Homo sapiens: one gene and its partners. The protein of the gene in region 4 interacts with the protein of the main gene of each other region in a biochemical or structural test. Each region holds a gene or a part of one and is shown on either strand. Other genes may lie near its edges.

The links. The genes of interacting proteins can lie anywhere in the genome.
Region 1: the proteins of CASK (region 4) and USH1C interact in a test that uses a peptide from one of them, tested with the Homo sapiens proteins (one large-scale study listed by IntAct).
Region 2: the proteins of CASK (region 4) and F11R form a complex in vitro, tested with the Homo sapiens proteins (2 studies listed by BioGRID and IntAct, with this or other methods).
Region 3: the proteins of CASK (region 4) and LNX2 interact in a test that uses a peptide from one of them, tested with the Homo sapiens proteins (one large-scale study listed by IntAct).

The regions. Positions count from the first base shown.
Region 1 is NC_000011.10:17,493,400-17,496,408, forward strand, and holds the end of USH1C (harmonin), read right to left. Parts: intron 2,279-3,009; coding exon 2,170-2,278; coding exon of another isoform or gene 1,954-2,169; exon of another isoform or gene 1,014-1,953; intron 978-1,013; coding exon 933-977; 3' UTR 501-932; downstream 1-500. UniProt on the Homo sapiens protein: Anchoring/scaffolding protein that is a part of the functional network formed by USH1C, USH1G, CDH23 and MYO7A that mediates mechanotransduction in cochlear hair cells. Required for normal development and maintenance of cochlear hair cell bundles.
Region 2 is NC_000001.11:161,014,653-161,018,152, reverse strand, and holds part of F11R (junctional adhesion molecule A isoform 1 precursor), read left to right. Parts: intron 1-3,500. UniProt on the Homo sapiens protein: Seems to play a role in epithelial tight junction formation. Appears early in primordial forms of cell junctions and recruits PARD3.
Region 3 is NC_000013.11:27,547,530-27,551,029, forward strand, and holds part of LNX2 (ligand of Numb protein X 2), read right to left. Parts: intron 2,963-3,500; coding exon 2,804-2,962; intron 942-2,803; coding exon 806-941; 3' UTR 1-805.
Region 4 is NC_000023.11:41,549,555-41,553,054, forward strand, and holds part of CASK (peripheral plasma membrane protein CASK), read right to left. Parts: intron 1-3,500. UniProt on the Homo sapiens protein: Multidomain scaffolding Mg(2+)-independent protein kinase that catalyzes the phosphotransfer from ATP to proteins such as NRXN1, and plays a role in synaptic transmembrane protein anchoring and ion channel trafficking.

The DNA of each region.
Region 1 (3,009 bases), on a different chromosome or scaffold from region 4:
ACATTCCCCCTGCTGGGCCCCCGGAGTTATGCCTTCCTGCCTCAAGCCCTTGCATTTCCCATGAGCTTCTGTGGGATGTGCTTCCACGGAGGGAGTGGACCCTGCCATCTTCCTCCCTCACATGCTGTCGTGGTGACCTCAGGAGAAGCATTGGTGGCTGTGTCGTTCTTGAAAGAAGCTGGGCACCCCATATCATGAGGTGACCCTTCGGGGCTCCTGCCTTCAGCTCTGCTTTCTGGAATTGAGCAAAATCCCTGCCACACAGACTTCATCTCCTACCATCTCTGCTGAGAAGACATTGAAGCCCAGCCCAGCCCATCTCCTGCTTTCTCAACCTCTGCTCCAAGCCAGCCCTGGCCATTTGATCACACCCTTCATGTCAGACCCAGATCACAGCACTGGGATCTGTCTATCACCCTTGAATAGGGGCCACAAACCTTATGGTTTTTTGATTTGCAGCCTTGAATCTGCTGCCCAAATCCACACTCACTCCTATAAGCTGGAAAATAAATCTATTTTATTAATGAGCTCAGAGTAAGGTTTGGAGTGACAATCCTGGCAGCAATTAGAGCAGAGGGCAGAGGAGAGGGATGGAGAGAGAGAGACTCCAGTGGGGTCTTATTAGGGTTCAAGGAAGGAGTCCCCCAGAGCTGGGAGAGACCAAATTCACTGGGCCAGAGGAAAGGAATGAGAGTCTGGATCCTTGAGATCTTCTCCCAAATGGCTGGCTGCTCCCTTTCCTCCACGTTGGCCTTCAGAAGAGTGGCCCGAGCTGTTCCTTATCTGGCCCTGGTTCAGGGCCAAAGGGAGTTTGAGATTCCTGGGTGATAGATTCAGGTCCCAAGGATGCCATCTGGTGTGTGTAGTGTGGCCTCTCTCAAGGCTGATCCGAGGCTTTGTGTTCACGAGGTGGGGCCGGAGCTCACTGTTTCCTAACGGTGAATTTGGTTTCCCCTTTTGGACTTCAGAAGAAGGTCCTGCAGGGAAGTGGAAACAGCCCAGGTGGATACAGGCTTTGTGGGTGCACACTCAGCCCAGCCAGAGCAAGGCCCCACAAGGGGGAGTACCCACTCTGGCAGCACAAGGCCCTGCCACCCTTTGGAGACCCCTCTGGGTGCAGGCCCCAAGTGGCTACACACCAGCCACAGCCACAGCACACAGGAGGCCAGGGAGAAAGCGGGAGGGACACCTGGGATGGGGGAAGGAGGAGACTGGGAGGAACAGGGGCAAGAGTCCTTTGCAAAAGGCAAGTAACAGAAAACATAGGGCCATGCAGGCCACCCCAGAAGCCATGGTCTACCCGGCCAAGTGTCTTGGGAGCATGAGGCCCTAATGTTTTGGGAAAGTTGTAACAGAAAAGTCAAGTCCAGGCTTGGGTCTGCCCCAGATGCTGCCATCTGTGGCTTCAGGCCACACCAAACACCAGTTTCACAGCCACCTGCCAGCTCTGTCCACGGGCACATCCCTATCACAGGGTGAGAAACACATCCTACAGCTGGGTTCCACGGTATATCCCACAGATAGAGCCCAGAGCCAAGGAAGGGAGAAGGCAGAGAAGACCGTTTGGTCTAAGCACGGCTCAGGCCATGACAGGGCACAACAGGACATGAGCAACTCTAATCCACCAACCCTGGTTCTTTGGACCAGCCTTCAAAACCTCTTAATAGCCCTGGTTCTGGCCAAGTGTGGGGGCCATGGTGGAGCAAGAGCTCCCAGGAGGTTGGCATTCACAGGAAGGGGAATTTTCACATTCTGTTGAGGACATCTCTTGGGGGCAATTCCAGCCAGGCTTCCTGTGGGCTCCTTCAGCCCCACATGCCTGGTTCGAGGCATTGTCTGTGTCCCTCAGAGAATGTTGCCCAGGGCTTCATCCTGCTCATTTGGGTGCTGCTTGGGACCCAAAGCAGGTCCCAGGGCCGTGATGAGTCAGGACACCTGGGTCCCAAGCAAGTACTACAGACTGGGCTTTGCACCACTTCCCTGAGGGGAGGGCTTTGAGTCTGAGGAATTCCACTGTGGCCAACAGCAGGCCCCAGGCAGCACTTCAGGGATGGCGCCTTGTGTACCCTCCAGACGCCAGTCCAAAGAACCTGCTGACAGCGTGGGCAGCAGATGGCCACTGCAAGCAGCAGGGACACACAGGGCCCTGTGGCCCGCCTGCCTATTCACCGTGGGCTCCAGCTGCAGGAGGAACCCGTGTCTGTGCACGGCAGCACGGTCTTCAAGGAGCTTTCGGACCGGTTGGGGGCTTTCAGCTACGGAGGAGGGAAGAGAAGCTCTATATATACAGAGCAGAGCAAGAAACACAAAACAGGCTTGGTTACTCCCAGGCAGAGCTCCATGGGGCTTCTCCTTTCACTGGGCTCCTGCCTCGGGTTCTGCCTAGCCCCTGGGTTCCAGAATTAGGAGCTGCGAGACCCTGGTTTCTCCAAGACATGTGTAGAGCTCAGATTCTGCTGGGCACGGGGAGCAAGCAGGCCCAGCCACGACAGGGAGGCAGGGCATGGTCAGTGAGTGGGTGAGTGGTGGGTGGGTGAGGGCTGGGGAGGTGATGGGATGAGGTGAGGATGGAGGTGAGACACCACACAGAGGCAGAGAAACAGAGAAAGGCAGACAAAGAGGTAAGAATGGATGCAGAATGACAAGGACAGAGGAACAGGGACTCAGAGACAGGGATGAAGAGAAACAGGAAGAAAGAATAGGAGACAGTGAGAGAGAAAGGGGACCGGGATGAAGGGGAAGGAGGGGGGCAGATAAGATGTTGACAGGAAGGAAGGAAAGGGTGAAAGAAAGACAGAGAGGGAGGAGGAGAGAAGACAGAGAGACCCACAGGACACAAGAGACAGACACACAGGGAATCACAGAGAGAGACAGTCTAGGCCAAAGCTCCCTGGAGATCCCACAGCGTGGGGACAAAAGCCTGTGGTCCCGGCTGCCTAGAGGCACAGTATGAGTGAATGCAGTTAGACATCAGGAAGACCTTCCAGAGAGTGAAGGATGGACACAGAC
Region 2 (3,500 bases), on a different chromosome or scaffold from region 4:
ATGACCCAGAGTACTAGCCTCCCTTTCCCTAGGGAACCTGTCCCTTAGAAAAGGTTCAGCTGTCTACCAGGTAGGGAGAGACACAGTAGAGGTGAGTGTGGATAGGTCAACTTACAGTGTAACCACAGGGGAGAGAGGGAAACCTGGGTTGGAATGCTGGCATTTGCTCCCCTGCCCTTCCTTGAGTGTGGTATCATCACTGAAGAGTTCCGCGTGGGCAGGGCAGAACTGCTGCCCTGCTTCTGGGTCATTCTCTGAGTCCCAGTGTTTACTATTGATGTTTCTGACTCAAGCCCTTCTAGCTTTGCCCTTTCAGGGGCAGGCATACCTCAAAACCGTAGACTGGTGTGAAGGTGTGGGTTGCCCCTCCACACCTGTGGGTGTTTCTCGTAAGGTGGAACGAGACTTGGAAAAGAAAAAGACACAGAGACAAACTATAGAGAAAGAAATAAGGAGACCCGGGGAACCAGCGTTCAGCACATGGAGGATCCCGCCAGCCTCTGAGTTCCCTTAGTATTTATTGATCATTCGTGGGTGTTTCTCTGAGAGGGGGATGTGTCAGGGTCACAAGACAATTGTGGGGAGAGGGTCAGTAGACAAACACGTGAACAAAGGTCTTTGCATCATAGACAAGGTAAAGAATCAAGTGCTGTGCTTTTAGATATGCATACACATAAACATCTCAATGCTTTACAAAGCAATATTGCTGCCCGCATGTCCCACCTCCAGCCTTAAGGCGGTTTTTCCCTATCTCAGTAGATGGAACGTACAATGTCTTGGTTTTATACCGAGACATTCCATTGCCCAGGGACGGGCAGGAGACAGATGCCTTTCTCTTGTCTCAACTGCAAGAGGCATGCCTTCCTCTTATACTAATCCTCCTCAGCACAGACCCTTTACAGGTGTTGGGCTGGGGGACAGTCAGGTCTTTCCCTTCCCACGAGGCCATATTTCAGACTATCACATGGGGAGAAACCTTGGACAATACCTGGCTTTCCTAGGCAGAGGTCCCTGCGGCCTTCCGCAGTGTTTTTGTCCCTGGGTACTTGAGATTAGGGAGTGGTGATGACTCTTAAGGAGCATGCTGCCTTCAAGCATTTGTTTAACAAAGCACATCTTGCACAACCCTTAATCCATTTAACCCTGAGTTTGACACAGCACATGTTTCAGAGAGCAAGGGGTTGGGGGTAAGGCCATAGATTAACAGCATCCCAAGGCAGAAGAATTTTTCTTAGTACAGAACAAAATGGAGTCTCCTATGTCTACTTCTTTCTACACAGACACAGTAACAATCTGATCTCTCTTGCTTTTCCCCACACTGGTGAGTCACTCCTCCTTTCCTCTCCCTCTACTCCCAGGAGTGAATTGTTCCCTCCAAACTAGAAACTGGTGACTGGCACTTCCTAGTTCTACCTGGAACTAGGAAACGAGTGGCAGTGGAATTTCAGTGTCCTTTAGTCTTTGCCTTCTGGCTCCAGATCACTTTTTTTTTTTTTGAGACGGAGTCTCATTCTGTTACCCAGGCTGGAATGCAGTAGCATGATCTTGGCTCACTGCAACCTCCACCTCCCGGCTTCAAGCGATTCTCCTGCCTTAGCCTCCCCAGCAGCTGGGACTACAGGCACGCGCCACCACGCCCGGCTAATTTTTTGTATTATTTATTTATTTATTTGTTTTTGAGACAGAGTCTCTCTCTGTCGCCAGGCTGGAGTACAGTGGCACGATCTCGGCTCACTGCAAACTCCACCTCCCGGGTTCATGCCATTCTCCTGCCTCAGCCTCCTGAGTAGCTGGGACTACAGGCGCCCGCCACCATGCCTGGCTAATTTTTTCTATTTTTAGTTGAGACGAGGTTTCACTGTGTTAGCCAGGATGGTCTTGATCTCCTGACCTCATGATCTGCCCGCCACGGCCTCCAAAAGTGCTGGGATTACAGGCGTGAGCCACCGCGCCCGGCCCCTAATTTTTTGTATTTTTAGTAGAGACGGGTTTTCACCATGTTGGCCAGGCTGGTCTCGAACTCCTGACTTCAAGTAATCCTCTTGCCTAGGCTTTCCAAAGTGCTGGGATTACAGGCGTGAACCCCTGCACCTGGCCACTCCAGACCACTTTTACCTCACCATGTTGCTCTTCAGTTCCTTTGTGATCATGTCTTGTGGAGTCTCCAGCCCAGTTCCGATTCAAGATAGAGCTACTGTGATTTTTTTTAAAAAAATTTAATTAGAATAGGTTAATTGACATGGTTTTATAATTAAAATGATATCAAAGGGGTGGGGTATCTCATTCCCATGTTGCTCCTGTTCACCCCAAACCCCAATAGTTTCTAATGTCTCTTCAGTGTTTCATTTTACAGATACAAGTATATATAAATAATACTTGTTTTTTCTCCCCTTTCTGACACAAAAAGAGGCATACTACATATATTCTACATCTTGCTTATATATATATATCATGGAGTTTTGTTGTTGTTGTTGTTGTTTTTGAAACAGGGTCTCACTCTGTTGCCCAGGCTGGAGTACAATGGCATGATCATAGCTCACTGCAGCCTTTTTTTTTTTTTTTGAGACAAAGTCTTGCTGTGTTGCCCAGGGAGGAGTCCAGTGGCGTGATCTTGTCTCACTGCAGACTCTGCCTCCCAGGTTCAAGTGATTCTCCTGCCTCAGCCTCCCGAGTAGCTGGGACACAAGCGTGCACCACCATTCTTGGCTAATTTTTGTGTGTGTGTATATATATATATATATATATTTTTTTTTTTGAGATGGAGTCTGGCTCTGTCACCCAGGCTGGAGTGCACTGGAGCAATCTCGGCTCACTGCAAGCTCCGCCTCGCGGGTTCACGCCATTCTCCTGCCTCAGCCTCCCGAGTAGCTGGGACTACAGGGGCCCGCCACCACTCCGGCTGATTTTTTGTATTTTTTTTAGTAGAGACGGGGTTTCACCGTGTTAGCCAGGATGGTCTCGATCTGCTGACCTCGTGATCTGCCTGCCTCGGCCTCCCAAAATGCTGGGATTACAGGCATGAGCCACTGTGCCCAGCCTTTTGTACATATTTTTTTAATTTAATTTTTTTTTTTTGAGATGGAGTCTTGCTCTGTTACCCAGGCTGGAGTGCAGTGGCGTGATCTCGGCTCACTGCAAGCTCTGCCTCCCGGGTTCACGCCATTCTCCTGCCTCAGCCTCCCAAGTAGCTGGGACTACAGGCACCCGCCACCATTCCCTGCTAATTTTTTTTTTTTTTTGTATTTTTAGTAGAGATGGGATTTCACCATGTTAGCCAGGATGGTCTTGATCTCCTGGCCTTGTGATCTGCCCCCATTGGCCTCCCAAAGTGCTGGGATTACAGGTGTGAGCTGCCCGGCTAATTTTTGTATTTTTAGTAGAGATAGGGTTTCACCATGTTGGCCAAGCTGGTCTTGAATTCCTGACTTCAAGTGATCCGCCTGCCTTGGCCTCCCAAAGTGCTGGGATTACAGGCATGAGCCACCGTGCCTGGCCTCACT
Region 3 (3,500 bases), on a different chromosome or scaffold from region 4:
ACAGTATGAAGTTTTGAAATGTTGGCACCAATAAAAAATGGGAACGGCCGGGTGCGGCAGCTCACACCTGTAATCCCAGCACTTTGGGAGGCTGAGGCGGGCAGATCACAAGGTCAGGAGATCGAGACCATCCTGGCTAACACGGTGAAACCCCGTCTCTACTAAAAGTACAAAAAATTAGCTGGGCATGGTGGCACACGCCTGTAGTCCCAGCTACTCGGGAGGCTGAGGTGGGAGAATGGCGTGAACCCAGGAGGCGGAGCTTGCAGTGAGCTGAGATTGTGCCACTGCACTCCAGCCTGGGTGAGAGTGAGACTGTGGTTCAAAAAAAAATGGGGAACAGTTATCACCAAAATTTAAAGTATATTCATTCATGGTATTGGTTATGACAGTGGCAGTACACGCTGTTGTTACTGGCTTTGCTGACATCAGGCCTGAGGGATACAGAACTCGTTCTATGATTCAGTTACTGAAAACAAAGACCCACCAGAAGGTCTTTACTCCATCTGGGGCACAGTTTGGGTGAGCTTTGCTCATTACCATAGGTAACATTTTAACAACTAAGTCTGAATTCTGAAAATATAAACTCACAAAGGTTAGTGGAAGACTGTTTCCAAGCTAAAAGAAATGTAACTAACTTAGGAAACCATTTAAATAAACATAAACGGACAATCTTAGTGGGTTTTGGCCCTGTGTATACCAGCAGTGTCAGCAGCTCCTAAACCACAAACACAATGAAACCAAAGGGTTTTCTTTCAAAAATCTAAAAAAGGAAGATGCAAGATTTGAAACCAATTTCCAAAATCTATACAAGGCTGCCAGGCCAACAAATAACGGTCAGAGTGACTTTGTTCCTCTGCTCCTTCAACATGGGAACTAGTGCAGAGTGGCTCATGCCCACGGTTGACAGCCCATTTACGGCCACAATCATGTCACCACACCTGGACAAAGAGAGACAGATACAGAATGTTACTATTTTCATGGTATTAAAAATATCCCAATTGAGATTTATGTAGCATGAAAAATGCGGTTTCACTTACCACTGAACTGTCAATGGTTAGGGTGTATAATCTACTTTGTCTGGGACAGCCCTTAAGCCTATGCTGGCTTTCCCTTGCCAATCAAGGAAACCCCTGTGCCGATGACTCCATAACCAGTAGGTGAATGTCAAGGACAAGCAGAGTAATTTTCACACTAATTTAAGCAAAATATAGAGTAAATATGCTCTCTCTTTAAAAAAATACCAAGTCATGCATTTGAAGGGGGTTATTATTTTGACTGCTATTTTTCTATTCATTCTTAGAGCTCATACATCTGAGGGCTGAATTAAATTGGAAATAAGACCCATACTTCCTCTTCTTTCAGCTGTTGACGCTCACTGTACTCTAAGCAGAATTATTATGGATGGATGATGAATTGGAGGACCTTTCCAGCCTTATAATTACCATAATTATCCTTATGGTTTTTGGTCTTCTATTTATACCATAAATATACTATTTTATTGTTAACTACCTCAATTTCTTTTTGGAAGTAGGAGGAATACAAATTATAATTAACAGAGGCCCAGACTGGTTAAGTAACTTAGCTAAGAGAGTGATTAATTCATTTTTCCCTACTCTGTCCTCCTAAAATGATTTTTTTTCATCTTTATCAATATAGGCTGACCTGGAGCATACCACTCCCAATCACCTTTCCATACATTATTTAGATGTCACTTACTCCTTGCAAACAGTGTACATTCTCCATCTGCATAGCATTCTATATAGAATGTCAACATTTACTTTTTAAGAACTGGTTCTTCCTTCGTAAACCAGGTATTAAGAATTTACAATCAACCACCTCCTCTCTGCTGGTGATGATGTCTTGCCATGACACCTTCTCTTTTCTTCTCCCAGTGCCCGGGCTTTGATAAGACGCTGTACACTGAGCGAGGACTTTTGCTCAGTGGTAGAGGCTGGCAGAGGGGTTAAAGTCCAGGGATCTAGAGCCAGATAGTCCTGGGTTTGAATGCCAGCCAACCACTTTCAGCTATTTCATTGTGGGCAAGTTTCTTAACCTTTCCAAGCCTCAGTTATCTTGTTTGTTTTAAAACAGGGATAATAAAGAAACTTACCTCATAGGATTGTTAAAAAGATTACATAATGCATGCACAGCACTTAGCACCGCGCCAGGCATCCTGTAAGCTATTGTACATTCATTCATCAAATATTTATGGAGATCTTACTTTATGCAAGGTATTGTTATGACTGCTAGGGATATAACAATAAATGCAACAAGATCCCTCCCTTATGGAGCTTGCATAAATACGATCTCAGGTAGAGATGAGTGCTATGGAGAAAAATGAAGCAGAGTCATCTAATGACAGGACTGGACCTGAGTAGGCTGTGTGGGAAACTTACTCAGCGCTCAATGTCACATCACAACGTGATGAATGAAATATGTCCAATGAAATAACTCAGGTTCAGTTTCTGTCATCAGATTAATGAAACATAGCTATAAGTGACAAGACAGTAAAGGTAACATTTCAGTCTAGATCGGGATTGGCAAATTTTTTCCGTAAGGGGTCAGATGGTAAATATTTTAGGCTTCAAGACCCATACAGTCTCTGTCATGATGACATCAACTCCGCTGGTGTAGTGTGGGAGCCAGAGAGTACATAAACCAGTAAGTGTAGCTGCACTGCAATGAAACTTTATTTTCAAAAAGATAATGGGCTGGATTTAGTGCTGACCCCTGACCCCTGGTCTAGATCATGTCCAATGTCATCAACATGAATCACATCATTAATTAGAACAAGACTCACTTTAATCTTCCATCATAATAAGCAGGAGTTCCCAAGACAATAGTTTTAATGAAAAAAGGCTGATTGGTGTGGTTCTCTTCATATCCACCAACGATACTAAAGCCCCAACTTCCCAAGTAACTTCTTCGTAAAACTATATCGTGGCAGCTATGAAGTGTGCTATAAACAAACAGAAAAATAAAGAAAAAATTAACATGGAGGCTTTTATAGCCGCTTATTTTTGTTATAACCCCATACCATGTTATATTTACCACTCTTGGAAAAAAGAAAAAGGGCTATTAATAAATAGATTATTTTGACAATCCATCTTCTAGCAGAGACACAGTCCTAGGTAGACTCAAATTTCTCCAACTTTTTTCAGTCTTCCCAAGTGAAGACACACACACACACATACACACACACACACAAGTAGAGAACCTGGTTACAAATTACACCTCAGTAACCTGTACAAAAAGGTCATGTACCTATATCAGCTCACTGCATTGTCAACAAAGTCCTCAATTCTACTAATCACTTTTATCTACAAGAGGAATTACAATGTGGGATGAAAGAGGTCTAGTACTGCCAAGCCCAGCATGCAAATGAAAGAAGAAAAAGATTAGGAACGCAGCTTCCGAAAAGAAGGCAGATAATTATCTCTCTTTTCTAAAGGTCCTATAGGCTTTTAGTCTACATGAGGAGTTATTTGTTATTTTCT
Region 4 (3,500 bases):
CTTAGCCAGGTGTGGTAGCTCACACAGGTAATCCCAACACTTTAGGAGGTTGAGGCGGGCAGATCACCTGAGGTCAGGAGTTCGAGACCAGCCTGGCCAACATAGTGAGATCTCATCTCTATCGAAAATTTAAAAATTAGTTGGGCGTGGTGGCGGGCGCCTGTAATCCCAGCTACTTGGGAGGCTGAGATAGGGGGATTGCTTGAATCCAGGAGTTCCAGGCTGCAAGGAGCCAAGATTGCACCACGGCACTCCAGCCTGGGAGACAGAGAGGGACCTTGACTTTAGAAGAATAAAAATAAAAAATAAAAAATAAAAATGGCTGGGTGCTGCGGTGGCTCACACCTGTAATCCTAGCACTTTGGGAGGCTGAGGCAGGCAGATCACTTGAGGTCAGGAGCTTGAGACCAGCCTGGCCAACCTGGTGAAACCCTGTCTCTACTAAAAACACAAAAAATTAGCCAGGCGTGGTGGCAGGCGCCTGTAATCCCAGCTACTCGGGAGGCTGAGGCAGGAGGATCACTTGAACCGGGGAGGCAGAGGTTGCAGTGAGCTGAGATTGCGCCACTGCACTCCAGCCTGGGTGACAGGGCGAGACTCCGTCTCCAAAAAAAGAAAAACATATTCATTACCTCCAGAATTTCCTCATGCCCCTCTGTAATTCCTCCCTCCCTCCACCCCCATCTTGCATTTTCCAGAAGTTTATGTAAATGGAATCATATAGCGTGTTCTCTTTTTTGCCTGGCTTCTTTCACTCAGCATAATGATCTTGTGTTTCATCCATACTGCTGCATATATCAATAGTTTGATCCTTTTTATTGCTGAGTGGCATTCCATTGTATGGCTATATCACAATTTATTGATCTATTTACCCACTGATGAAACTTCAAAAAAATGTTAGCCATTCTAATAGGTGTGACCACTGAGATTCTAATTTTGTTACTGCATGTTTCCCCCTGGATGTTCCTCTGGTTCTTTTTAAAATCTGCTATGTCATTAACATTTTTTTTCTGCTCTCTGAAGATATTTTACAAGCTTATTATTGATTTTTAAAAACCTGGGCTAGGCGTGGTAGCTCACACTTGTAATCCCAGCACTTTGGGAGGCTAAGGTGGAAGGATCACTTGAGCCTAGGAGTTGGAGATCAGCCTGGGCAACATAGTGAGACCTCATCTCTACAAAAAAAAAAAAAAGAAAAAGAAAAAAATTAGCTGGGTGTGGTGGTGCACGCCTGTTGTCCCAGCTACTGGGAAGGCTGAGGTGGGTGGATTGCTTGGGTCCAGGAGGTCGAGGCTGCAGTGAGCCATGATCATGCCATTGCACTCCAGCCTGGGCGAGAGCACAATACCTTGTCTCAAAAACAAACGAACCAACTTCGTAAGCTTATTTTTAAAATCTTTGTCTCTTAATTCCAATATATGCAGTAGGTTTGGGTTTGTTTCTACTATCTGTCATTTCTGTTGGGTCTTACTTGTTTCCTTGTGTGCCTGATAATTTTGACTTGCTGGCTACTGCCCTGGAAAAAGTTTATGTCGGGCGGATAGGATGAAGTTAGTGGGGGTTAGGATAAAAGTGTTTGCCTTCAGAGACTTTCTGTTTATACCATACATCTGAAACTATTAGTAAAGAAAGGGGAAACTTCAAATCAAGTACATGGCTTCAGCTCCCCTGGCTGCCCCAGGCTGTGTGTACCTGGGTGCAAATCCATTCAAGGTGGACTGGTGGCCACAATTTGGAAGTTTGTTCCCAATTTCCTCATCTTTTGCTTTGCTCAGTGACAAGGCAGCTTTCTCTATAGTCCTCCGGTGTTGAAGGGAAATAAGGGTATGCTTATCTGTTTCCTTTTAGCCTGGGGGGACTGCCTCTTGCACTCCTAACAATGAGGAGGGTCTTCTAACAGATTCCCCAACTTGTACTGGCCTTAGATCTTAACCTTGGTTCTCTGGCACAGAAGTGTTCAGTAATGACAAATGCCCTGTTTGCAAAATGGGCCACTTGGTAACTCTGATATTCCACTTATCATTCTTATTAAAGGCTTTCACATAAAAATTGGTCACTGAGGCCTGGTGTGGTGGCTCACACCTGTAATCCCAGCACTTTGGGAGGCCAAAGTGGGTGGATCACGAGGTCAGGAGTTCACGACCAGCCTGGCCAACATGGTGAAACCCTGTCTCTACTAAAAATATGTGGTGGCGGGTGCCTGTAATCCCAGCTACTCAGGAGGCTGAGGCAGGAGAATTGTTTGAACCCAGGAGGTAGAGGTTGCAGTGACCTGAGATCATGCCATTGCACTGCAGCCTGGGCCACAGGGCGAGACTCCGTCTCAAAAAAAAAAAAAAAAAAAAAAAAAATTGGTCACTGAGCTCCCCAGTACCTTTTTTTATTTCCCGGACACAGAGTCTCACTCTGTCGTCCAGGCTAGAGTGCAGTGGCGCGATCACGGCTCACTGCAACTTCCACTTCTCGGGCTCAAGCAATTCTCCTGCCTCAGCCTCCCAAGTAGCTGGGATTATAGGTGCCTGCCATCACACCTGGCTAATTTTTTTTTTTTTTTTTATTTCAAGTAGAGACAGGGTTTTACCATGTTGGTCAGGCTAGCTTCGAACTCCTGACCTCAAGTGATCTGCCCACCTCGGCGTCCCAGAGTGCTAGGATTACAGGTGTGAGCCACCATGCCTGGCCCCTGATACCTTTTCAGCTATTCAGTGCTTTCAAGGTCATTTGAAAAACATATTTTCTGCGGCACTTTTCATTTTTTTTCATCAGGAGGATTTATCCAAATAATCTCATCCACCATTACAGGAAATAGGAAGCAAATCTGCTTTTTGCACTGCCATCACTCAGGATTCCTCCAGAGGACTCAGAGTTCTAGAAATTGGTGAAACATTTATATAGATGATCTGACTAGGCAGAAGAGGTCTGGAATCTACACAATTATTTTCAATAAATGCCCATAATATATGGTAACATTAAAGAAGACATTCTGTAAAATGTAAATATCAGTAAGAATATAATGGCATCATCACGGCAACGACTTAAAGATTGCTTTCCTCCTGCTTATGCTTGAACTGTTTCTCGAAGATCAGACTGAAAGACAATGCCAGATGGAAGGCTGCTGCTTCTCCATTTGGGCCCACGTTTCCTTATGTATAAAATGATGGCATCTGAAGTCCTCATCAGCTCCAACATTCTAAATTTAATACTATTTTTTGGGGAAACATGGGATAGCTGAAAGAGGCGATCAAGCAAAAGAGATTAACTGAGAAATCTCTTAACTAGTGAGAAAAATAGATAAAAGCAGGTAGAAATTTCTATGGACTCAATGTCTTTGGTCTCTTTTAGCTGGGTTCAAGTATTTTAGGAGGAACTGGCAGGATGCTTAATGGCTGTTATTTTTTGCCACATGAAACAAAACTCAGACATTATCTCTTTTGTGCTAGAAATAATCTGGTATATTGCCCAAGTACCAACAAAGGTAAAACCATCAATATTTTCCAAAA